Regions from separate parts of the Homo sapiens genome. Here regions 2 and 3 are each linked to region 1. The links come from fine-mapping of genetic effects on gene expression. A gene starts in region 1. Each other region holds a variant in brackets. All regions are shown on one strand. Distances are between the middles of the regions.

Region 1 (8,195 bases):
AATTTATGATCTTTCTTTTCTATTGGTTCCAAAACTGCCATCTGGTGGAGAGGAAGAGGGCATGCACCTCTCCGCTCCTTTTTTTTTTTGAGCCTGAGTCTCTCTCTGTCGCCCAGGCTGGAGTGCAGTGGTGCAATCTCGGCTCACTGCAGGCTCTGCCTTCCGGGTTCACGCCATTCTCCTGCCTCAGTCTCCTGAGTAGCTGGGACTACAGGTGCCTGCCACCATGCCCGGCTAATTTTTTGTATTTTTAGTAGAAACGGGGTTTCACCATGTTAGCCAGCATGGTCATGATCTCCTGACTTCTTTCTTGATCCGCCCGCCTCAGCCTCCCAAAGTGCTGAAATTACAGGCATGAGCCACTGTGCCCGGCCTGCTACTTCTAATTTCTTAATTAACTTTATCAGGCTTATTTCCTTCAACTGATGTCAACTTGGCTTTTTAGAACAGTTATTCTCAAAGTATGGTTCTTGGACAAGTACCATCAACATCCCCTGGAAACTGACTAGAAACTGAAATTCTCTGCCCCACCCCAGACCTACTGAACAAGAAACTGTGGGGCCCAGAAATCTGTGTTTAACAAACCCTCCAGGTGGTTATGATGCGTGAAGTTTAAATAAACAACTGTCTTAGATGAGAACTTTATCACTCAGGAACTTTTTGCAATTATCCAATAAAACAAACATGGCCTCACGAAATTAAACAACTACATGAAACTGCTTAAGCAGGAAGAAGACATCACAAAGTAGTGCTTAGTGAAAATTATTATCCCAGAAGTAGGCAAGGTGTGAACAGAGCAGAAAATCAAGTCCAGGAGGCCAATAATTTAGGCATGGGGTGATGAAGAACAGCAGATGTGGAAACAGAAGGGAGTGATATTATTAAGAGTTTTTATAAAGTAAAAACTCAATGGAAAGGAATGTCAAAAATGACTTTAAGATTTCAAGCCAGGACAACCAGGAGAATATAGAAAAGACAGGGAAAGAAGCTAGCTGGTTTGCAGGACGAAATACAAATTCAATTTTTTGAATTTGAATTTGTACTGACATAAGCAGAAATAGTCAACAGAAGAAAGAGACTAGAGGTTGAAAGAAAAGTTAGAACTAAAGGTATATCTTATGCCACATGCATGTACAATCACTGAGACACTGGAATCTCTCAGCTTTCTGTAAGGAATAAATGAGAAGGCTGCAGTTGAAAACTAATTGCCAGAAAGATGCCAACTGTAACTGTGGTATTGGTCAGCAGCATTTTATTTTTGTATTCTATTTATTTATTTATTTTTAGAGACAGGGTCTCACTCTGTCACCCAGGCTGGAGTGCAGTGGTATGATACATGGGCTCAAATGCAGCCTCAATCTCCTGGACTCAAGCCTCCTGAACAGCTAAGACTACAGGCGCACACCACCACACCTGGCTGATTTTTAAATTTTTTGTAGAGAGACAGTCTATGTTGCCCAGGCTGGTCTCAAATTCATGGGCTGTGATCCTCCAGCCTCAGCCACCCAAAGTGCTGGCATTACAGACTTGAGTCACCATGCCCAGCCGAGCAGTTTTAAAACTACTAACATTATCTGGATGGAATGGTAGAGATTAAAAAGAAGAAAAACAGAAAAAAACTACTAACATTTAAAAATCAAGACATTTCACCTAAAACTGCACTTTTTCCAGGTTTTCCAGAAAAATCAGTAATAATGGAAACCCTGGGTCTATATTCTATAAGGGCAACAATGGCTGGGGCTGAGAAGCTGCCTCCTCTCTAGAGCACTCTCTCCAGTTCACCAGTCCCCCATGCTGCCATCTAGCCAGCATCTTTCAATGCTTCCTTCTCAGCCTCTGCATTCAGGCTCATGATTCCTAACACAGAAAACAACCTAAAAGAGCAACAAAGATTGAGCCTTTGATCAACTAAGAAACAACTAACTAGAAGTAAAAGAGAAGACAGGCAAAGAGCAAGAACCAAAACAATACAGTTCAGCAGAGGATGGAGGAGATGGAAAAGGCAATGAGGCCTATTAACAACCTAAAAGTACCCTCTTCCTGTTATTTCTATTTTTAGAGACTAGGTTTTTCCATGTTGCCCAGGCTAGAGGGCAGTGGCACAATCATAGTTCACTGTAAACTTGAACTCTGTGGCTCAAGTGATCCTCCCACCTCAGCCTCCCAAGCTGGAAGGATAGGCGTATGCCACCATACCCAGCTAGTTTTTTTATTTCTTATTTTTTGTAGAAACGGGGTCTTGCTATGTTGCCCAGGATTGTCTTGAACTCCCATGTTGGCCTCTCAAAGTGCTAGGATTACAGGCATGAACCACCACACCCAGCGAAGAGCAACCTCTCTGATGAGGCTTCCTGACTCCCTCTCCCTATCTAAATCTGGCTCTCATAACTGTACTTGTCCCTTAAGACACTTACCAGAATTGGTAATCAAAAATTACTTTTGTCTAATTATGTGTTTCCTATCTGCTCTCCTTTCAGACTCCAAGGGCCCTACATAAGGAACAGTAGGAAAACCAAGTAGTCCAGAGTGGCTACAGGATAATAGAAATGCCTAGAACTGTGCTTCCCAGCAAGTAGAACAGAACAGTAGGTAATTGTTCATCCATGAATATACTGGGGCCAAATCTGTGAAATCCAGACTGGTAAAACTGTATTTAATTGCATAAGCAGAAGGGCACCTCTGTGAGATTCTGAGAAGAATGGCAGGCACTGAAGTAAAACCTTAGCGAGATTAACCTGGCAATCTTGTACAGAAACAATTCACACTGGGAAGAGGAAAAAGTGATTAACTTTGAGACTACTGTTGAAACCTGAATCCACAGGAAGAGGTTAAGGTTTGGGAGTGTGGGAGAACTTAGGTAAGTTTGAGAATCTAGAAGAATGATAGTGCCAAGAGAGACAAAGAGTAAGGGTTATACTTACGTGCAAATTTATTTTTCTTTTCCTTTTTTCCTTTTTTTTTTTTTGAGACAGAGTCTCACCCTGTCGCCCAGGCTGGAGTGCAGTGGCATGATCTCGGCTCACTGCAACCTCCCCCTCCCAGGTTCCAGCAATTATCCTGCCTCAGCCTCCCAAGCAGCTGGGATTACAGGGCCCTGCCACCACACCCAGCTAATTTTTTTGTATTTTTAGTAGAGACGGGGTTTCACTATGTTGGCCAGCCTGGTCTTGAACTCCTGACCTCAGATGATATGCCCGCCTCGGCCTCCCAAAGTGCTGGGATTACAGGTGTGAGCCCCCGCGCCTAGCCCTTAAGTGCAAATTTATATATGAGGTGCAACTGAGGCATTCAGAGGGTTGTGACCAGCATTAGAGCTCAGGGCAAGTCAGGTTAGACAAAAATTTGAGTTACCCTAAGACAGATGATTTGGGAACCAAAAAAAAAAAAAAGTCCAAGAGCTAAACTGGCACTGGGGTAAGGAGAGGCGGTGGAGAGTGGCATTAGAAAAGTAGGCCAGTACCGAAGAAGCCAAGGGAGGCCAGAGTTCAAGTGGGGCTGCCCAACACTGTCAACCATGGCCCAAGGCCTTTTTTCCTCTCAGAAACACTTTCCGTGGCACCCTATTCCCTTATACAGTTGTGGGTTAGGGTATTGTGGACTGGACCATCTTGGCCTCTGCTTTCTAGGATAATACCCACTTCAGGGCTGAGTCTGGAAAAGGCATCTCAGATCAAAGCCCCCAAAATGGTCCTGGCCTCACCTACAGAGTACTGCATCTTGGAACGTGGGGTGGAAGAAAGCCAAGCTGAATTGTGGAAATGACAGATCCTTTCCTAAGTCAGCTAACTTTAACAAACATGTCTTTCCAGTTTGTTTCTCTATTTGCTATTTGCTGACAACACTGAAAAAGCGGCAGTAACGATTACGTGTACTGATTTTCTTAGCATTTACTAAATCTCTCCATGAGCTGGTGCAAGGACAACTAATTTTAAGGTATTAAAAAAACAAACAGAAAAGCAACTCTTAAATGTATAACAAAAATTTACTGAGAATTAGGTCTGTGGATACAGTGTTAGACATCTAGACACTTTCCCCTGAAACTATTCTTCTTAAGTCAAGGAAACACCTCCATCCCTTTTCAGGAAACCCAGAAGGCAAACTCTAAGGCTTAAAGAATCCAGTAATTTAAGTCGTCCTTATTTTAAAGAAATAAGGACGGTTCTCCCTTCAAGTGGGCGCAGCTGCTACCTGGTATGACAGTACAGGGCCAGGCAGTGGGCTGTTTAAGGCGCATGCAGCCTAAAGATGATGGCTACCAGATTTCCTAGGCTGAGCTCAAAGCGCAGTGAGGGGTACTTTCAAAAAGTTAAACAATGTTTGCAAACATGCTCCCCCATGCCACGTTAAATGTCCCTCAACACTAGCCTGAAAGTTCCAAATGCCTATACTGACGCTGCAGCCATGCAAGAAAGCTGAATAAAATCACACCACGGGCAGAGAGAGGTGCAGCAACTGGCAAAGCACCTGTGTGTGCTGGCTGCACAAAACATGCCGCACAGTTCCGCTAAGCTAAATCTGTCCGTGTCCCCAGACTGCACCCAACTTTTAAGAAAGGAAAGAAACTGAGGCCAAAAGAATTAAAGTCGTGTGGGGACAAGCCTGAATTAAGAGCCAGAGTGGCAGAAAACCAGAGTGCTGCTGCAAAGAAGATGCTAGAGGGAGAAAGGAAAGACAGGGACGGGGGCTGGGGCTTGGGGAGGGCCAAGGTTGGGGTCTCACAGCGGCGCCTCTGAGCGCGACTCGAAACTTCGAGGCCAGCAGTCTCCACCCCCGGCCCTTTTCCCACTGTGGCGAGTGCCGCTGAAGAGCCTGCCCTTGGCCCCTCGCTCTCTCACTCACCTCGACATGAGCCTCCACATCTCGCGCTGCCCCATCGCCAAACACTCCGAAGCTAAAGCAGCAGAGCGAGAATCTCCCGGACCGTTCCAGCGCCTCGCGTGAGCCCCGCCCACCGCCGTCCTGCGCCGCCGGGCACAGATGACAAGTCCTCCAGGAAGCCAGAGCGACCGTTTCCGCTACGCGACGGGGAAGGGCGGGGCAAGAACGACGCCTGGAGGAAATAGTTGAGGGAGAGGAAGGGATCGGGGACCGGGCCAGGGAGAAGGCGGAGAGCGAGCTGAGGCGGAGCGGGAAGAGGGAGGATAGAACGGACTAGGGCGGATTCGCAGGAAAGGAGATTGCCCTCTAGAGGCTGTCTTAGCCCAAAGCGCAACCTGTTGTCTAGGCTTGGCCTGCCAATTTGACCAGCAGGGACTGATGTGAAAGACTTTTCTGGAATTTTAGTAATTTTTTATTAAAACGTAAACTTAGTATTCTTTGAGACTCAAGTAGAGGAATTACAGTTGATAAAGGACATCGATGTAGTTTATTCATTCCTAACCCAATACAGCCGAATTCCTTTAATATTAGGATTGAGACATTTTCATTTTTCTTGGGAAAAGTTACAGATCTCCCACTCTTCCTCAAAGACACACAAGAGTTGTCTGATTAAGACATAATAGATATGTCTTCCCAACTAAAGTAAAAGTTGCTGTTATCAGTGGAAGCATAATTACATTCAGAAAGTAGCTTACTCTTAAATGAAACCAACATTTAACTCAACTACTAGGATCCACTGTTAAATTGAGGAAAACGTTCCTCCGCTTCCAGATCCACCCAGATGTGTAGCAGAAGACATTTCATCGCCACTATTAAGTATTGACACATTTATCAGAAAGAAGAAATCCGGTGACAAATTTCAGAGAGGACACATGAAAGGAGTTATTCTTAGTACCTTGATATTTAAAGAGATACACTGTTGAGACTTTGATCAAAAATTACGTTGCTAACCTAGGTCAAATGTAATAACCAAATGCCCACTGAGAAGAGGACAGACAACAGACATCACAGAAGGAACTCCTTACCTGCAATTTGGTTTTTAACTGGCTACAGGACATCACCATCTGACATCACCATCATGCCTCATTCACTGCGCACAGAAATGAACCATTCATCTGACCTAGCATGGTTTACTGGAAAAAGCATGGGCTTTCCTGTTAGTCAGACTGAGATTCAAATCTTCCTTGCCGCCCTAGCTTCATGTGTGTGAAACCTGAGTCTCACAAGGCCTCATCGTTAGAAGGGCCCTGTGCTTGTTTTAATGCTGTGCTATTAATAATTTTTGAACAAGGAAACACAAATTTTCATTTTACACTAGGCCTGCAAATTATGTAATCAGTCCTACCCCTAGCACACTAATAGTTTAATGACCTTGAACAAATTATATAGCTTTTCAGAACCTCCATTTTCTCATCTGAAAATGGATGTGCTGATGATTAGAGGTGTTTGTGAAGATCCATTGAAATATAGAAATATGTGCATAAATTACTTAGGACTTCGTAGGTATCAAGACCTGTCAGTTATGCCACACCTTCCACCAAGCTGTCCTTCCTATTCCTAAATTCTCTATTTCTTCTAATGATGCTATCGTCTTCTGGCTTCCCGCTCTAGAAACCTCAGTCCTTTAAAGAAAATTATCTTAACATTCTATTTTGAAGATTTTCAAACATATAGCAAAATTATAAAAATTTAAAGCAAACGCCTATGTGCTCACCACATAGATTCTACCTAGATTTACATTTTATCTTGCTTTATTCCTTATCCCAAATACCTTATTTTTAAATGCATTTCAAAGTTAATTACAAGCATCGTTTTACTTCTCCCAAAATATGGCATGTGTCTTACTACCTAGAGTTAAATATTTGTTTACATATTTTCCCTTTTGAGACAAAATTTACATACAACAAAATGCACAAATCTTAAGTGTACATTCACTGAGTTTGACAAATGTATACACTTGTGTAACCAAAATTCCTTAGATATAAACCATTGTCATCACCCCAAAAAGTTTCCTCTCACGATTTCCCAGACATTCTCTGCCTACCACTGCCTTCCCCACCCCAACCCCCGCCCCAGAAGCAACCACTGTTCTGTCTCGAGAACCACTGTTTGTTTTGAGACAGGGTCTCACTCTATCACCCAGGCTAGAGTACAGTGCCACAGTCATAGCTGACTGCAGCTTCAACCTCCCTGGGCTGAAGCAATCCTCCCACCTCAGCCTCCTGAGTAGATGGGACTACAGGCACATGCCACCACACCCAGCTAATTTTTGTATTTTTTTTTTTTTTGCGAGATAGAGTCTTGCCATGTTACTCAGGCTGGCCTCCAACTCCTGGGCTCAAAAGATCTCCCCGCCTCGATCTCCCAAAGTGCTAGGATTACAGGTGTTAAATACTGCACCCAGTCTGATTTTTCTCTACCATCAATTAGTTTTGCATCTTCTGAAAATTCATATAAAATGGAATCATACAGTGTGCGCTTTTTTTGTATAGCATTTTTCACTTAGCAAAATGTCCATATCGTGTGTATCGGTAGTTTCCTCCATTTTATTACTGAGTAGTATTTCATTATATGAATACCCCATAGTTTACTGATCTGTGCTCCTCCTGATAGATTCCTGGGCTGTTGCCAGTTGGGGCTATTATGAATAAAGCTGCTGTAAACATTCTTGTGTAAATCTATTGTAGACATATGTTTCCTATTCTCTTGGGTAAATATCTATAAATAGAATGTCTTGGTTATAGGGTACATCAATGTTTGGTTTTATGTGAAACAGCCAGACCCTTTTTTCAAGAGTTTGTATCATTTTGGAAAAGAATTCTGGTGGCATACAATCCACAGAATGAGGAATAATGTTTATAAATGATATATTTGATAAAAGGCTATCTAGAATATGTAAAGAACTATCACAATTTAAATAACCAAATTTTAAAATGGATGACAGATTTGAATATACTATACAGCTCTCCAAAAAAGATATATGAATGATCAATACTCATATGAAAAGATGCTCAACATTATTAGCCATCGGGAAATACACATCAAAACCACAATGACTTCACACCCACCATAATTTTTTAAAAAACAAGTGTTAGTGAGGAGAATTTGGAATCCTCAGACACCACTGGTGATGTACAACAGTACAGCTATCTTGGAAAAATGTCTGGCAGTTCCTCAAATGGCTAAACAGAGAGACCATATGACCCAACAATTCCATACCTAGGTATTTACCCAAAATAAATGAAAACATAGTCCTCACAAAAACTTGTACATAATGTTTATGGCAGCATAATTGCCAAGAAGTAGAAATAACTCAA
Region 2 (8,180 bases), 130 kb before region 1:
ATTTTATATATATATGCATAAAACTTTTTCAAAGACCACAACATGGTTTTTTTATATATTTACATTAATTCAGGGTGAGACCAATTTTAAGCAATAACTTGAGATATAAGGCATCTTAGAAACCTGTGTAAAGGCTTAAGAATATGACATAAAATGGGACAATGGTAAAATAAACCATCCCTGTTAATCCAGTGTTTAAGATGGACTTCTGGGGAGTTAGCAGCCTATTCGTTTACACAGCAGATTTTAGAAGTTACTTTTTTTTTTTTTTTTTGCTGGTTTTGTGTTTGGGTCCAACTCATGTCCAAATTATGGCCTTTTTGTGATACCTTCCACTGGCATATTCCCAAGGAATTTACTCCTTTTGATGACACTGCACCCAGAATGGAGGAACACAGCTACAAAATGAACTATAAAGAAGGGCTAGGCAGGCATGGTGGCTCACACCTATCATCCCAGCACTTTGAGAGGCCAAGGCAGAAGGATCACTTGACGCCAGGAGTTCACAACCAGCCTGGGCAATATGGCTGTCTCTACAAACAATATAAAAAATAACGTGGGCATGGTGGCACGTGCCTATAGTCGCAGGTACTCAGGAGGCTGAAGCCAGAGAATAGTTTGAACCCAGGAGTTCGAGGCTGCTGTGAGCCACAACTGGCCACTGTACTCCAGCCCAGGCGATGGACTGAGACCCTGGCTCTAGGAGAAAAAAGGTGGGTAGCTGCAGTAAATCACATTTTTTCTTTGACGGACCCAACAGAAGGCCCAGTTGTTGCTAGATCTCTTCCTGAGGATAGTGTCAGGGCTCATTCTATATTTTTAGAGCTTTGAGCCTTCAAATAACATTGAAACATGTAAAGGGGCTTTCTTTTCCTCATGTATGACTGTCATGTGTATATATGTGTCTGTGCATTGTGATTTGAGGGGTAGGAGACAGAGGGAGAGGGAGTGGTGGGTGGAAGGGCACTGTTAGATTTTAATACTTATAGCCTGAATAAATTATATTCTCTTTCTCCTTTTGATTTTGTTAATTTTGGAAGCACTTACATTCTATGGGCGCAGGTTCTAAACACATAGTAGACACTCAATATAGACTGGTTGGATGGTTAAGGGATGCTCTGATAGTTCTTTTGTGTATCTTGAGAACTAAGGTATAAAAGATTGATTTAAATATTTTTGAGAAACTGTGTTTTTTAAACATTTTATATTTCTGTAATTAGCCAGTTAAAATGACAAGAAGGCCAAAACACTTCCTGGTTGATATGCAGCATTTAATGTATCACACCTTCAACTGATGACCATAGTCACTTCCCAACCTGACAAATGAATAACAGACTAAAAATTAATTCAGGACAGCTGATCACACCTGCTATCTTAAGGCTAATCATAGCTGCCTAACCACTGACTTGCATTAATGGCTAACATTGTTGAAACTTTATTTCCTCCTTATGAATCAACTATCTTATTAGGAGTGATTGAAATTATACGAAGTTTGTTCTTCACTGGTGTGCAGGCTTATACTGTAATTGCCTTTTAAGTATTTAAAGTACTGTATTGTAACTGCCTTTTAAGTATTTAAAAGTATTTAAACAGCTGCTATTATGAACAGTAGATGCTTCACATGAACTTTTTTTTCCCTCTTGGCTCTTACTTTAAGGATGATGCTTTTTTATTCATGATAAATCTTGAGGCTTCTGTGGGATGGAAACTATAGCATGAAAATCTGATTAACAAATATGTGGGGGCAGTTTACTAATCCATTCAATTAGGGCAACTGCACCTTCTCAGCATGCCATGAGCAATTCCATTAGATAGCTAGTTACTGGACCAGATGATTACCTAATTACATGAATATATCAGTGTCATTTTTCCCAACACAGGACTTGAAGGCCAGATTTGAGAACTAGTCCTGGGGTAGTAGTACCCAGAGACCTGTTTGGGAGACTGGGAAGGTCTGGGCCATCACGTTCTTGCTGATAGCCCAGAGATCAGGTCAAGGACAGGGGCAATGAGAAGAAAGAAACAGAGACCCTGGGAAGGAGCTATCTTGGTCTTTACCGGCAAGAATTAACTTCAAAGATGGGACAGAGGTTCTATAAGTTCAAGAAAGGGAGAAAGTTAACACTTAAAAACATAGGCTGGATTGGATAAAGTACCGTTGGAGCACTTTTATTCCAAGAAGAAGCTGGAATTCGGAGTGACAGCTCCATTCTTATTTGCCATGTGAACTCTGGGTCAGCAAGTGGAAGAGCCAGACCTATCTGCCTGTTTCATCTATTAGATGGGAAGAGATGATAAACATAACATAAATTAGTAAGCAGATGTGATAAGTAACTGAAGAACAGTTGTTTTCTATCCTTAATAGATACGGCTAAACCAGCTGAAGGTTAACAACATAAATATTTTAATATCTAGGTATTTTTGATGTCCTATACTCTAGAAATATGTGCAAATTAAAGTGTGGTGGGGATGAAGTATTACTAATCTATTTCCTTGGATAAGGTTATATATCCCTCTCTCTACTCTACCCTCCTTAGCTACAAGTTCAGGAACAACACAATAAAGGACAAAAGACTCTCACATCCAATTTCAAATTGGTTTCTCATTTATTGCCATCATTCTAAATCAAAGCACTCTACCTGTTCCCAAAGGAAGTGACAGATAAAGCCCTTGAACTGGCAACTGGAAGAACTAGAAGTAGGCTTTTGCTCTTCGGTAGGCCCAGAAGATTATGACCACTGAGTTGGGCTGGTTTCAGGCCAATGTAGAAAGGAAGCAGCAGGCCTCACACTGGAGTCCTCCAGCACAGGGAGCTGGTCCGCTCTGGATGCTGCCCATAGGCGGTCTTTTTCAGATAAAATACATCAGTCCCCTGGATTTAGGTGCCCCAGAATGTTCTCAAAAACTGTTCTTATATCTTATTAAAGTAAAAATTACAGTGAAATACAGTAAACAGATGTTAAAGGTACAATCTAACATGTTTTAACATATACCTCATGTAACTAACATACCAATTAAGATATAGAATTTTTTAATAGCCTAGAAAGTTATTTCAGGGCCTCTTCCAAACAGTCCTTACTTCTTCCCACCCAAAGGGAATCACTACTATGATTTCTATTCATAGGGTCACTATTGTCCAATCTTGAAATTCATATAAATATGATCCATCTTTTTTATCTGGCTCAACATGTCTGAGATTCATCCATGTGGTTTGACATACCAATAGTTCATCCTTTTTTAATTGTCAAGTTATATTCCATTTT[G/A]AGGATATCCCTAATTTGTTTATCCATTTGATTTGCCTACTGATGGACATTTGGGTTGTTTCCAGCTTTGACTATTGTGAATAAAGAGGCTATGGATATTGGTATACAGATTTTTAAAATACCTGTGTTTCCATTTGTCTTAGATAAATATCTAGAAATGAAATGGCTGGTTCACAGGGTAAGTGTGTGGTTAACTTTTTAAGAAACAGCCAAGGAATTCTTTAAAATGGTTGTACCATTTTACATTCCTTCCAGCAATATATGCGTTGCATGTCCTCACCAACACTAAGCACTGGGGTTTTTTAAATTTTAGCAATCTTAGTGTGGGTAATTATATTGTGGTTTTAAAAAATACCTTTTTAAAATTTTTAACATACAGTAAAGCTGACTTCATTTTGGTGAACAAGTCTATGAATTTTAACGCATGTTTAGATTTGTTACAGCCACCACCACAATCGGGATAAAGAATAGTTACATCACTCCAAAAAAGGTCCCTCCTGCTGCCCTTTTGGTCACAGTCTACCCCCAACCTCCTGTCAACCACTAATCTATCATCTGTCCCTATAGTTTTGCCTTTTTCCAGAATGTCATATAAATAAGTAACCTTTTGAGACTAGCTTGTTCAATCAGCATGCCTTTGAGTCATCCATATTGGTGTACATTAACATCTTTGTTGTCAACTTTTGGCAATTATAAAGCTGTGACAGACATTTGCATACAATTTTTTTTCTTTATTTTTTGAGATGGAGTCTCACTCTGTCACCCAGGCTGGAGTGCAGTTGCGTGATCTCAGCTCACTGCAACCTCTGTTCTGCCTCCTGGATTCAGGTGATTCTCATGCCTCAGCCTCCCAAGCAGCTGGGACTACAGGTGTGCACCACTATGCCCTGCTAACTTTCTTGTATTTTCAGTAGAGACAGAGTTTCACCATGTTGGCCAGGCTGGTCTCAAACTCCTGACCTCAGGTGATCTACCCACCAAGGCCTCCCAAAATACTGGGATTACAGGCATGCGCCACCGTCCCCAGCCAGCATACAATTTTTTTATGTGAACACAAATTTTCATGTATCTAGGGTAAATTTCTAGGAGTGGGATTGCTGGGTCTTCTATGTGGTTATTCCAACTTTGTGAGAAACTGCCAAACTTTTCCAGAGGCCATGTCATTTTGCATTCCCACCAGCAATGTATGAGAGTGCAGTTGCTCTGTATATGCACCAGCACTTGGTATTATTTTTACCCATTCTAACAGCTACATAGTGGTTTCTTATCATGGCTGTAATTTGCATTTCCCTAATGGCTAATGATATTGAGCATCTTTCATGTACTTATATTTGCTATCTATAGGTGGTACCAAGTGAACTGCCTAAATCTTTCAAATCTCGTTTTCTAAACTGGGTTGTTGTCTTGCTATTGAGTTTTGATACTTATATATTCTGGATTCAAGTCATTTATTGGCTAGATGATGACTTGCAAATATTTTTTATATTTGCTGTTTTTTTTTCAATCTTTTAACTGTGTTTTTTTTTCCAGAGCAAATCTTTTTCATTTTGATTCAGTCTAGTTTACCAGTTTTTTTCTTTCATGGTTCATGCTTTTGGTATCACATCTAAGAACTCTTTTCCTAACCCAAGATCGCAAATGTTTTGTCTTCTTGTTTTATAGTTTTACATTTTACATTTAAAACTATGATCCCTTTTGAGTTAATTTTTCTATAAAGTATAAGGTATAAGTAGATTTTGGTGGGGGGAGAGTATGTGAATGTCCAATTGTTCCAATCCCATTTGTTGAAAAGATTATCCTTTTTGCATTCATTGTTTTTGGACATGTCAAGTATCAGTTTACCATATTTTTATGGGTGTATCTCTGGACTTGTTTCTGTTTCATAGGTTTGTGGCTAGCCTTTTGTCAATATAGCACTAATTACTGTAGCTTTATAGTCATTCTTAACATTAGATAATAGGAGTACTCCAAATTATTGTTCTTTCTCAAAATTGTTTTGGCCATTCTAGTTTGTGTTTCCATGTATAATTCAGAATCTGTGTGTGTGTGTGTGTGTGTGTGTGTGTGTGTGTGTGTATCTATATATCTATATATATAAAACAAATCCTGCTGGGATTTTGACTGGACTTTTAGAATCCATTTGTCAATGTCTACAGAAAAGCCTGCTGGAATTTTGCCGAATATACATGTTAATTTGGGGAGGACTAAGAATATTGTCTTTCAGATCATGAACAGCATTTGTCTGTTTGTTTAGGTTCTTTACTTTTTCTCAGTAACATTTTGTATTTTTCACGTACAACGTACACAATACAAAATGCAGTTTTCCTTCATATGCTTTGTTAAATTTATCCCTAAGTGTTCATGTTTTTGATGCTATTGCAAATGGCATTAATTTCATCTTCTGCTAAGTTTGTAGAAATTACTTTTTATATGTCACTTTTATATGTTAAGACCTTGCTACAATTATTCCAGTAAATTTTTTTTGGGGGGAGGCCATATAATCTTTAAAATTTTCTCTATACAATTTTGTCATCTGCAAATAATGGCAGTTTTCTCCTTCTCTCAATCTTTATGCTTTGTATGTCTTCCCTTCCTCATACTCAGTGGGACTTCCGGTAAAATATCAAACAGAAATCATGAGAATGACTATTGCTGCCTTGCTCCTGTCATAGGGAAAAAGTGTTGTCTTTCACCACTAACATTACTTTTGAGGAAGGCCTTCCTATTAATACTTTGCTGGGATTTTAAAAATAAAAAATGGTATTTTATCAAAATTTTTTTTCTGTTTCTACTGAGGTGATCATCTGATTTTTTTTATGTTAATATAGTGAATTATATCTATTGTCTTTGGAATATCCTTGAATTTCTGGTATAAATCCACTCAGTCATCATGTTTTATCCATTTTACACGTTAGATTCAATTTGCCAACTTCTGGGTCTATGTTCATGAGGGATATTGGCCTGTGGAGTTTTGTCTTCTTGGTAATACTGGCCTCATATAGAATAATTCGGGAAATCTTTCTTTCCTCTTTCTCTCTTTTCTGAAGAGTTTAGATAAGACTGGTATTACTTCCTCGTAATGGCCTTGGTAAGAGTTCTCTAGTGTAGCCATTAGGGCCTGGAGGTTTCTTTTTGGAAAGATTTACAATTTCTTTAATTGATGTAGGGCTATCATTTTTTTCTTGTGCCAATTTTGGTAATTTGATATTGGCATAAAATTGTTTATATTATTCCTGTTTGCCTTTTAAACGTATATAGATGTCATAATGCCCATTACACATCTTAATATGTGACTTTTCTTGATCAGTCTGTATAGAGATGTATCTATTAGATCTTTTTAAAGAACCAGCATTCATTCTGTTGTCTCTATCGTATGCTTCACTGATTTCTGTTCTTACCTACTTCTGTCTACTTATTTTGGGTTTAATTTGCTTTTCTTTTTTTAGCTTAAGGTGAAAGCTTATATCACTGATTTAAACTTTTCTTCTTTTCTATTATAAGCATTTAAGTATATAAATTTCCTTCTAAGCTCTAAAACTAATGCATTTCAAAATTTTGATGTTTTGGCTTTTGTTTAGTTGAAACTATATTTTAATTTCTCCTGTGATTTTCTTCTTTGTCCCATGGGTTATTTAGAAATATGTTTAGTTTCCAAATATATGAGGCTTTTCTAGATATTTTACTCTCTGGGGTGGTTAGAAATTGTACTGTGTAATGTTTTAAGCCTTTGAAATCTGCTGAGACTACCAATAGTCTATCTTGGTGAATGTTCCATATGCACTTGATAAGAATATGTAATAGTTGTTGGGTGTAGTGTTCTGTGAATATCAACTCAAGTTGGAGCATAATGTTGTTCAGAACACGTATTTTTTCTTTGACTATTCTAGTAATGTTTTAAGTCTCCAGCTATGCTTGTGGGTTTGTCAGTTTTAAGTTGTGTATCTTTTATAGATAGCATATAGTGGGTGTATTTTTTAAAAAAATAATAGACTGTTTTTCAGAGCAGTTTTAAGTTAACAGAAAAATGGAGCAGGAAGTAGTGTTCCCACGTATCCTGTGTATACACACACACACACACACACACACACACACACACACACACACGCAGCATCTCCCACTAGACACATCGCAATCACCTGAAATCCACGTTATTTTAGGGTTCATTCCTGGTGTTGTACAACCTATGGTTTTTGACAAATGTATGACAGAAATCCATTATTAGTATCATATAGAATAGTTTCATTGCCTTAAAAATTGTCTGTTCCACCTATTCATCTCAGCCTCTTCCATAACCCTTGGCAACCACTGGTCTTTTTACTGTCTCCAGAGTCTTGCCATTTCTAGAATGTCATATAGTTGTAATCATACAGCATGTACCCCTTTCAGATTGGCTTAACTTAGTAATAAGTATTTGAGGTTCCTCCTTTTCTTCCCATGGCTGGATTATTATTTTTTGAGGTGGGGTCTTGCTCAGTCACCCAGGCTGGAGTGCAGTGGTGCAATCAATCTTAACTTACCACAACCTTCAATTCCAACTCCTGGGCCCAAGTGACCTCGGCTTCCTGAGTAGTTAAAACTGTAGGTGTGCACCACCATGCCTGGCTAATTTTTTTCATATTTAATTTTTTTGTAGAGACGGGGTCTTGCTATGTTGCCTAGGCTGGTCTTGAACTCCTGGGCTCAAATGATACTCGCCTCAGCCTCCCAAAGTGCTGGGATTGTAGGCGTGACTATGCCCAGCCTAACTCATTTATTTTTAATGCTGAATATGTTCCATTGTTTAGATGTGCCACAGTTTACCCATTCACCAAGAAGGACATCTTGCTTGCTTCTAAGTTTTCAAAGTTATGAATAAAGCTGCTACAGACATCCATATGCAGATTTTTGCATGGATTTAAGCGTTCAACTTATTGGGTA
Region 3 (8,195 bases), 60 kb before region 1:
AGTTCTTCATGTAGCTGACTCTTGCTATTCACATCTCAGCTTAAAGGACAACTCCTCTGAGAGCATCTTTAATCATCCAATTTAAAGTAGCCATCTGGGAGACTTATACTTTGGACAAGATAGAGTAACAGGAACCAGACTTATCCCCCTACCTGAAACAACTATAAAAACAGACACAATATATGGATCAATAGTGTTTTCAACACACTGAACATCAAGCAATAAAGAAAAGTGGTCTCTGAATATCAGAAAACAAGCAAGGTAAATTCTACAACAGCTCCAACTTCATGCCTTGAGTGAATTCCCAGGCCCAGCACAGTGCCTCATTTGAGAAGATGAAGCTGAGTCTAGGGAAACCAAGACAGCTAGAATTCCCACAACAGAGTACCAGAGCGGAGAGAGCTGCAGAGAGAAAGCTCTGGAGATCTGCAGGGTGTCTCTTTTAAGTACTTAGCTTAGGAATGGAGAGAGAGAGAGAGAGAGAGTGTGTGTGTGTGTCAAGAAACTACATGATTAGTCAGTTTTCACACTACCCGAGACTGAGTAATTTATAAAGGAAAGAGGTTTAATTGACTCATAGTTCCAAATGGCTAAGGAGGCCTCAGGAAACTTACGATCATGGCAGAAGGCAAAGCAAGCTTGGACCTTCTCACATGGTAGTAGGAGAAAAAAGAGTGAGGAGCAAAGGGGGAAGAGCCCCTTATAAAACCATCAGCTCTTGTAAGAACTCACTATCATGAGAACAGCAAGGGAGACACTGCGTCCATGATCCAATCAGCTCCTACCAGATCTCTCCCTGGACACATGGGGATTACGGGGATTACAATTCAAGATGAGATTTGGGTGAGGACACAACGCCTAACCATATCACTACATGAGACTAAGGAAAGAATCACAGAAAATGATTATAGAGAACAGTACTGGGAACCCACACAGGACTAAAAACAGCATGTTCCCCACCATCTGGACTAGAAAAACTCATGATTGATGTCATGGGGCACTGTGCAGAACACAAAGCAAGATCTTGCCCCAGTAGTGGGAAATAATTAGCCCTAGTTGGACCACTGCTCCAATTCTGCAAAAAAAAAAAAAAATAATAATAATAAATCTTACAACACTTGAAAATATTAAGATGTTTCCCAGGAATTTAAATTCATCTCAGAAGAAATCTCAAAAATACTTAAAAGAATACAAAAATATCCAGCACCCGACAAAGTAAAGTTTACAATATGTACAATTCAATAAAAAATTACCAGCTATCTAAAGATGCAGGAAAATACTAACCATTAAAAGGGGATTTAAAAAAATAAGAACCGACATAAATGTAAGAACCAGCAGACAAAAACATTAACACAGTTATCACAAACATAACCTATATATTCAAGAAGTTAGAGACACAGAAAATTTTTCTTTTCAGAAAAAGAACCAAATCATACTTCTAGAGATGAAAACTGAAATGAATGTATAAGCTGAAAAATACCTGGATGAGATTAAGGGCAGATTAGATCTTGTAGAAGAGAAGATTAATGAATTTAAGGACACAGGAACAGAAACTATCTAAAATGAAAGAGAGAAAAAAAATGTTTTTAATGAATGAAGCATAAGTGAGCCTTATAGAAGTATGACCAGAATTCCTGAAAACGGAATGGGTGGAAAAAAAGTATTTGTAGAAATAATGGCAGAAAATTTTCCAAATTTGACAGAAGTTATAAACCTAAGTAGCTCAATAACCACAAGCATTAGAAATATGAAGAGCACCAAAGCACATCATAATCAAATAGCTTGAAACATGTGATCAAGAGAAAATCTTAAGAGCAGCCAAAGAAAATAAAAAGACACAGGAACAAAAATAAGGAAGAGAGAAGACTTTCTGTAGGAAATTAAATGAGATGACAGTGTAGTAACATCTTTAAATTACTGAAATTAAAAACCAGAGTAGAATCGAATTCCATACCCACATCTCATACAAGTGAACTCAGGTTTCACCTGAGGAAATGAAAGAAGAGCAAACAAAATCTAAAATAAGCAGAAGAAAGGAGGAATGAATACTGGAGCAGAAATCAGCAAAATAAAAAATAAATGAAAACAAAAATCTGTTTAAGATCAATAAAATTAATAAACCTCTAACTAGATTGATCAGGAAAAAAAAAGAGAAGACACAATGACCAATATCAAGAATAAGAGAGCCAGAAATCACTAAGGAGTCTACAGATATTAAAAAGATAATAGGGGAATATTATTGTCTTAGTCCATTTTGTGTTGCTATGACAGAATACCACAGACCGGGGTAATTTAGAAAAAAAATTATTTCTCACAGTTCTGGAGGCTGGGAAGCCCAATATCATGGTGCCAACATCACACGAGGGCCTTCTTGGTGCATCATCCCACGGCAAAAGGCAAGGGTGAGACAGGACAAGAGAGCAGAAGGAAAGGGGGCTGAAGTCATCCCTGTATCGGGAACTAACCTGCAAAAACTGGAAGAGCCCCCATGAACCACTCACCTCTTAGTGGTACCAACTCTCAACACTGCTGAGTTGGGAATTAAGTTTCCAACACGTGAACTTCAGGCGACACATACAAAAAAGCAATTATGAACAACTTTATGCTAACAAATTGACAAATTTCTTGAAAGGCCCTGATATGGTTTGGCTCTGTGTCCCCATTCAAATCTCATGTTGAATTGTAATCCCCAGTGTCGAATGAGGGGCCTGGTGGAAGGTGATTGGGTCATGGGGGCAGATTTCCCCCTTGCTGTTCTCATAATAATGAGTGAGTTCTCATGATATCTGGTTGTTTTAAAGTGTGCAGTACTTCTCCCTTCACTCTCCTGCCAGCCACGTGAAGATGCACTTGCTTCCCCTTCATCTTTGGCCACGACTGTAAATTTCTGGAGACCTCCCCAATCATGCTTCCTGTACAGCCTGTGGAACTGTGAGCCAATTAAACCTCTTTTCTTCATAAATTACCCAGTCTCAGGTAGTTCTTTATAGCAATGTGAGAATGGACTAATACAGCAAACCGGTACCAGAGAAGTAGGGCATTGCTATAAAGATACCTGGAAATGTAGAAGTGACTTGGGAACTAGGCAACGAGCAGAGATTGGAATAGGTTGCCTCTTTACTCTGCTAATTGTTTTCTTTGCTGTGATTCTAGAAGCGTTTTACATAATGTAATTCTATTTGTCTATGCACAGACCTTGGGAGCCACCCCTTGCATCAGTGTAGCCTGGATGTTGGATAGATTCAACAACATGTGTATATACGACAACAATCGTATATTTTTGTTTTTGTTGCCTGAGCTTTTGGCGTCAAAGCCAAAAAATTATTGACCAGATTAATGTCACGTCATTTTCCCATATGTTTTCTTCTAGTGGTTTTGCAGTTTCAGGTTGTATGACTACATCTTTAATCCATTTGAGGTTTTTTTCTAAAATATAATATGAGGTATGGGTCTAATTTCATTTTTCTGCATATGGATATCCAGTTTTTCTGACATCATTTATTGAAGAGACTGTCCTTTCACCATTATGTATTCTTGGCATCTTTCTTGAAAATCACTTAACTGCAAATATATGGATTTGTCTCTGGGCTTGCTATTCTTTTCCAGTGGTCTACGTATTCATTTTTATTCCAGTACTATGCTGTTTTGATTACTAAAACTTTGCAATAGTGTTTGAAGTCAATACAAAGCCTCTAGCTTTGTTCTTTTTGCTTAAGATTATCTTGGCTATTTGCAGTCTTCTTTGGTTCCATATGAATTTTAGAATTGTTTTTTCTATTTTTTTGAAAACTGACATTGGGATTTTGATAGGGATTACACTGAATCTGTAGATCACTTTGGGTAGTAAGAACATTTTAAAAATATTCTTCCAATCCATGAACATGTAATATCTTTTTATTTATTTGTGTCTTCTTCAATTTTTTTCATCAAAGTTTTGTAGTTTTCAGTATACAGATGTGTGTGTGTGTGTGTGTGTGTGTGTGTGTGTGTGTGTGTGTGTGTGTCTGTCTGACTGACATGGTCTGGCTCTATTGCCCAGGCTACAGTGCAGTGGCATGATCTCAGCTCACTGCAGCCTCTACTTTCAGGGCTCAAGCCATCCTTTTATCTCCACCTCCTGAGCAGCTGGAACCACAGGCACACGCCACCATGTCCAGCTATCTTTTGTTATTTTTGTAGGGATGTCGTTTCGCCATACAGATTTTACCTACTTGGTTAAATTTATTTCTAAGTATTTTATTCTTTTTGATGCTTTTGTAAATGAAATTGTTTTCTTATTTTTCAAATAGTTTGTTGTTAGTGTATAGAAATGCTGATTTTTATGTGTTGATTTTATATCCTACAGCTTTACTGTATTTATTAGTTCAAACAGTTTTTTACTGGAGCTGTTGGAGTTTTCCATATATATATAAGAGCATGTCATCAGCAGTGACAGTTTCACCTCTGCTTTTCCTGTTTGGATGCCTTTTATTTCTTTCTCTTGCCTAATTGCTCTGGCAAGGACTTTCAATACAGCATTGAACAGAAATGATGAGAGCAGGCATCATTGTCTTGTTCCTTATCTTAAATGAAAAATATATACCTTAACATCAAACTTAATTGGTAGAAGACTAAATGCTTTCCCCTAAAATCAGGAACAAGGAAAAAATGTCCACTCTCACCACTTCTATTCAACATTGTATTGGAAGTTCTATTCTACGCAATAGGGCAAGAGAAAGAAATAAAAGGTATCCAGATTAGAAAAAGGAAAGGAAAAAGTAAAACTGCTCTTACTTGTGAATGACATAATTGTCTCTTTAGGAATTCCAGTAAAGTAGAATCGAATTCAAATCTAAAGCAACTAAAACTAATAAGTGAGTTTAGCAAGTCTGCATGATAAAGGTAAATACAAAAATCAACTGTATTTCTTTAGACTGGTAACTAACAATTCAAAAATATCATTAATATGAAATACTTATGGATAAATATGACAAAAGATAAGACCTATAAACTGAAAACTAAAAATCCATGCTGAGAGAAATTAAAGACCACTTACATAAATGAAGAATTATATCTTGCCCACAGGTCTGAAAAGACT[C/T]GATAGTGTTAAGATGTCAATTCTCTCTAAATTCATCTGCAGGCTTTTTTGTTGAAATCGACAAGTAACTCTAAAATACATATGGAAAGATAAAGAACCTATATAGCCAAAGCAACTTGGTAAGATACAAAGAACAAAGGTGGAACATTGTCACTACCTGATTTTAAGACTTAACTATAAAGCAACACTAACCAAGACAACATGGTGTTGGCACCATGATTGACATCTATAGACAACTATAACAAAGCTACACAGGCAATTCAGTAGCAAAACAATACCCTTTCAACAGTTGGTACTGGAATGATTGTATTTCCATATACAAAATAAACTTTGACTTATATAGGTGATCCACACCCCTCACCATATACAAAAATTAACTCAGAAGTGTCATATGATAGTTTTGATCACAACTCAAAACTGCACAGATCTAAAGGCAAAAATATATTCCCTTAATGATATTTTATCTATAGTGTTAATGTTTTATTTATAGTGTGTTAATGTCTCCTTTAATGTTCTCAGTTTTGTGTTTTCAGATATAATCATTGAGCTAATATAGACTTCAAAGTATCTTCCTATTTAATTTCTTTTTTAAAATCCTTTCATTGTTGCATCTCACACAAGAGTCCATCAATTCCTTCAACAACAGTAAACTCTGAAACATATCAAAAGAAGATGATGCTAAAAGTAATTATAAAAAAAATTCTGGTTGTTTACCTATTGCAGTTTCTGGCATAGCAAAAAGACACTTTTCTGTAGCCACTCGAAATTGCCCATGGACTGAGAGACCAACTCCCTAGAGAAAAAAGGCAAAAAAAGAGGCGGGGGGGAATTAAACATATTGTTAAAAAACAAGCAAATTCACACACTTACAAAATTACAAAGCAAGTAAATTATCTTTATACTCCACAGGAACTTGCTTCAGGGAATAGGTTGTCCCCACCTCTTTCAATTAACTTTGAATTCCACAAACAGCACATGACTATATTCCCCTTTATTAAACATTTACACATAAAGTCTGATCACACCCCCATTCTTGTCTGGTCATTCTCTTCCTCCACAGAGACACATAGCTATTATCCATTTGGTAAGTAACCTACGATTTTTTTCCCTATGTATTTCTTATATATGAACAAATGTGTCTATTTATCTGATATATATTTTATATATAAGAATATATACAACTATACATATATAAAATTCACACTCTATTCCATGGCCTGCAAGGCTCTATATCACCTGGCCTAGCTGACCTCTTTGACTTTATCTCCCATCACTCTTCCCGCACTCGTTCCACTAGCCATGGGGGCTTCATGCCATTCCTCCAAAATTTTAAGCTTTTACAATTTCAATTAATCATAAAACTTCTAAGGTAAGAAGAAAAACTACTAGATAAGGCCACTGCCTGCTCAATCACTGCTTTTTCTCTAAGGGAATCTGCTCTGCCCAGAGACTCTCTTTTCCTTTCCCCAGGAGGGGCTGAACTAGGGATTGGCAATGGACCCAAGGGCAGCCAATGGAGACTAACCAGAATTCAGAGGCCTGGGGAGCAAAGAGGCAGGGGTGAATTAGATAAGGTTCTTCTTACTCTTAGGTACTTAAAACTAAAACACAGTGCACAGTTGTCAGTCGATGACAGGCAGTGAAGCTTAAAGGTCATCTGACATTTGAGCTAAAGATGACAATGACAGCCAAGTAAAAGCTGGTTTTATATGCGGTAGAGACAAAAAAAAAAAAAAGAAAAGAAAAGAAAAGAAAAAAACCCTGAGAATGCTGCAGTCTGTACAAGACAGAAAACAAAACAAACACATAAAAAGAAGCAGAGATAGAAAAATAAACACACAACTTAAATTTGCCTCAAGCCCACACCTGCAGTCCAATTTTCAGGAACATAAGCAATGCCTAAGGTCCCTGAACTTGTCTAATAACTGCCCCATTCTCTTTTGTGGATCTTTTTGAGTGAGTCTCTGTTCTTTCCAATTAAAATGTCTCTTCACCACATTTTCAGTTAGAACTAGACCTAGATCCTGCCATCAGCATCACACAACGTAAGTCTTTGGGCCCCCAGTATATATTCACTGCAATACTGTTCTGTGCTTTTCCTCCCAACACAACCTCCTAACACTGCTGTCCCTGACTAGTCATTCCCATCACATCTTCTGGAATCTTCATTCCTTTACAAAGGAACAACCTAACAGACCAAATTCTCTACAGAGGGCCCTCTCCACCTCCTGAACTCTATGGAAAAAGAAACTTAAAAACCCCATATTACTTCACATAGAAGCTACAGATCCATGCGGGGTAACTGATTCATTGATTCCATTTGTTATCTTATATTACATAGAGTATGTTTTATTTTAGCATTGGCTGATAATAGTGAATTAAAGAAAAGACATCAAGATTTGAGCAAAAAGTTATTAATGAAAAACTATCAGAATAAGAGACCACTGACATAAGAATCATTAAGAGCCAATTTTAAAGCCTTTCAATAAAGATGAAGGTTCAGAATAGTCAAGCCACTTCACTTGAAGATACTAGGAATACGCTGAACCATTTCGAATGGGGTATAAAACCCTAATGGCAGATTCGTAACTAATTTTTCTATCTTACATCAAAGAATCTATTATAGGTTACTTGTAAGCAGCCCTCTTAACTTCTGAAATTTGATTTTACATTTTATTTAACCATTAATCTTAGCTGATACTTCTTTGCTAGACTAAAAAGGCTCCAAAGTCTTCAAGTTTTATTGTATTAGCTAATTTTATACAGATTCATTCTCCAAATATAATACTTTATTCCAATTCCAACTCTCCTCAAATCTCTCCCCCAAACCTACCAAACCCAGTAGTCAAATCTCATTTTTCACCAAGCTGAACACTAGCTAAATAGCTCAGTAATATTTGACAGTTGCTCATTCCTACTTTATGAAATGCTTTACTGGGCTTTGAGGCACCATACATTCCTGCTTTAAAATCTAACTCATTAGTTACTCTTTCATTTCTCCCTGATATCAAAGTGTTGACCTGCCACAATAATTAGATGTCATCCTTCTACTCCACTTCACTCTACCCCACTGTACTCTGTCCTGTCTACATGCATTCCCTAGGAGATCTCTTCCAGC

The links.
Region 2: its variant is fine-mapped to the expression of HIBCH in tibial artery (GTEx, PIP above 0.99).
Region 3: its variant is fine-mapped to the expression of HIBCH in whole blood (TOPMed, PIP 0.94).

What each region holds. Positions count from the first base shown.
Region 1 is chr2:190,314,877-190,323,071 of GRCh38, forward strand. HIBCH (3-hydroxyisobutyryl-CoA hydrolase) reads right to left here and starts at 4,950. Exons shown (of 14, transcript NM_014362.4): 1 at 4,840-4,950. The coding sequence starts at 4,874.
Region 2 is chr2:190,187,153-190,195,332 of GRCh38, forward strand. The region is part of intron 1 of AKAP19 (A-kinase anchoring protein 19); the gene reads left to right. It also overlaps a transcript of HIBCH not described here. Among named protein-coding and RNA genes, the nearest start is that of AKAP19, 10 kb to the left of the region's middle. The variant G/A (reference allele first, on the strand shown) is at 3,264.
Region 3 is chr2:190,255,365-190,263,559 of GRCh38, forward strand. HIBCH (3-hydroxyisobutyryl-CoA hydrolase) reads right to left here. Exons shown (of 14, transcript NM_014362.4): 7 at 5,792-5,870. Among named protein-coding and RNA genes, the nearest start is that of HIBCH, 60 kb to the right of the region's middle. The variant C/T (reference allele first, on the strand shown) is at 5,078.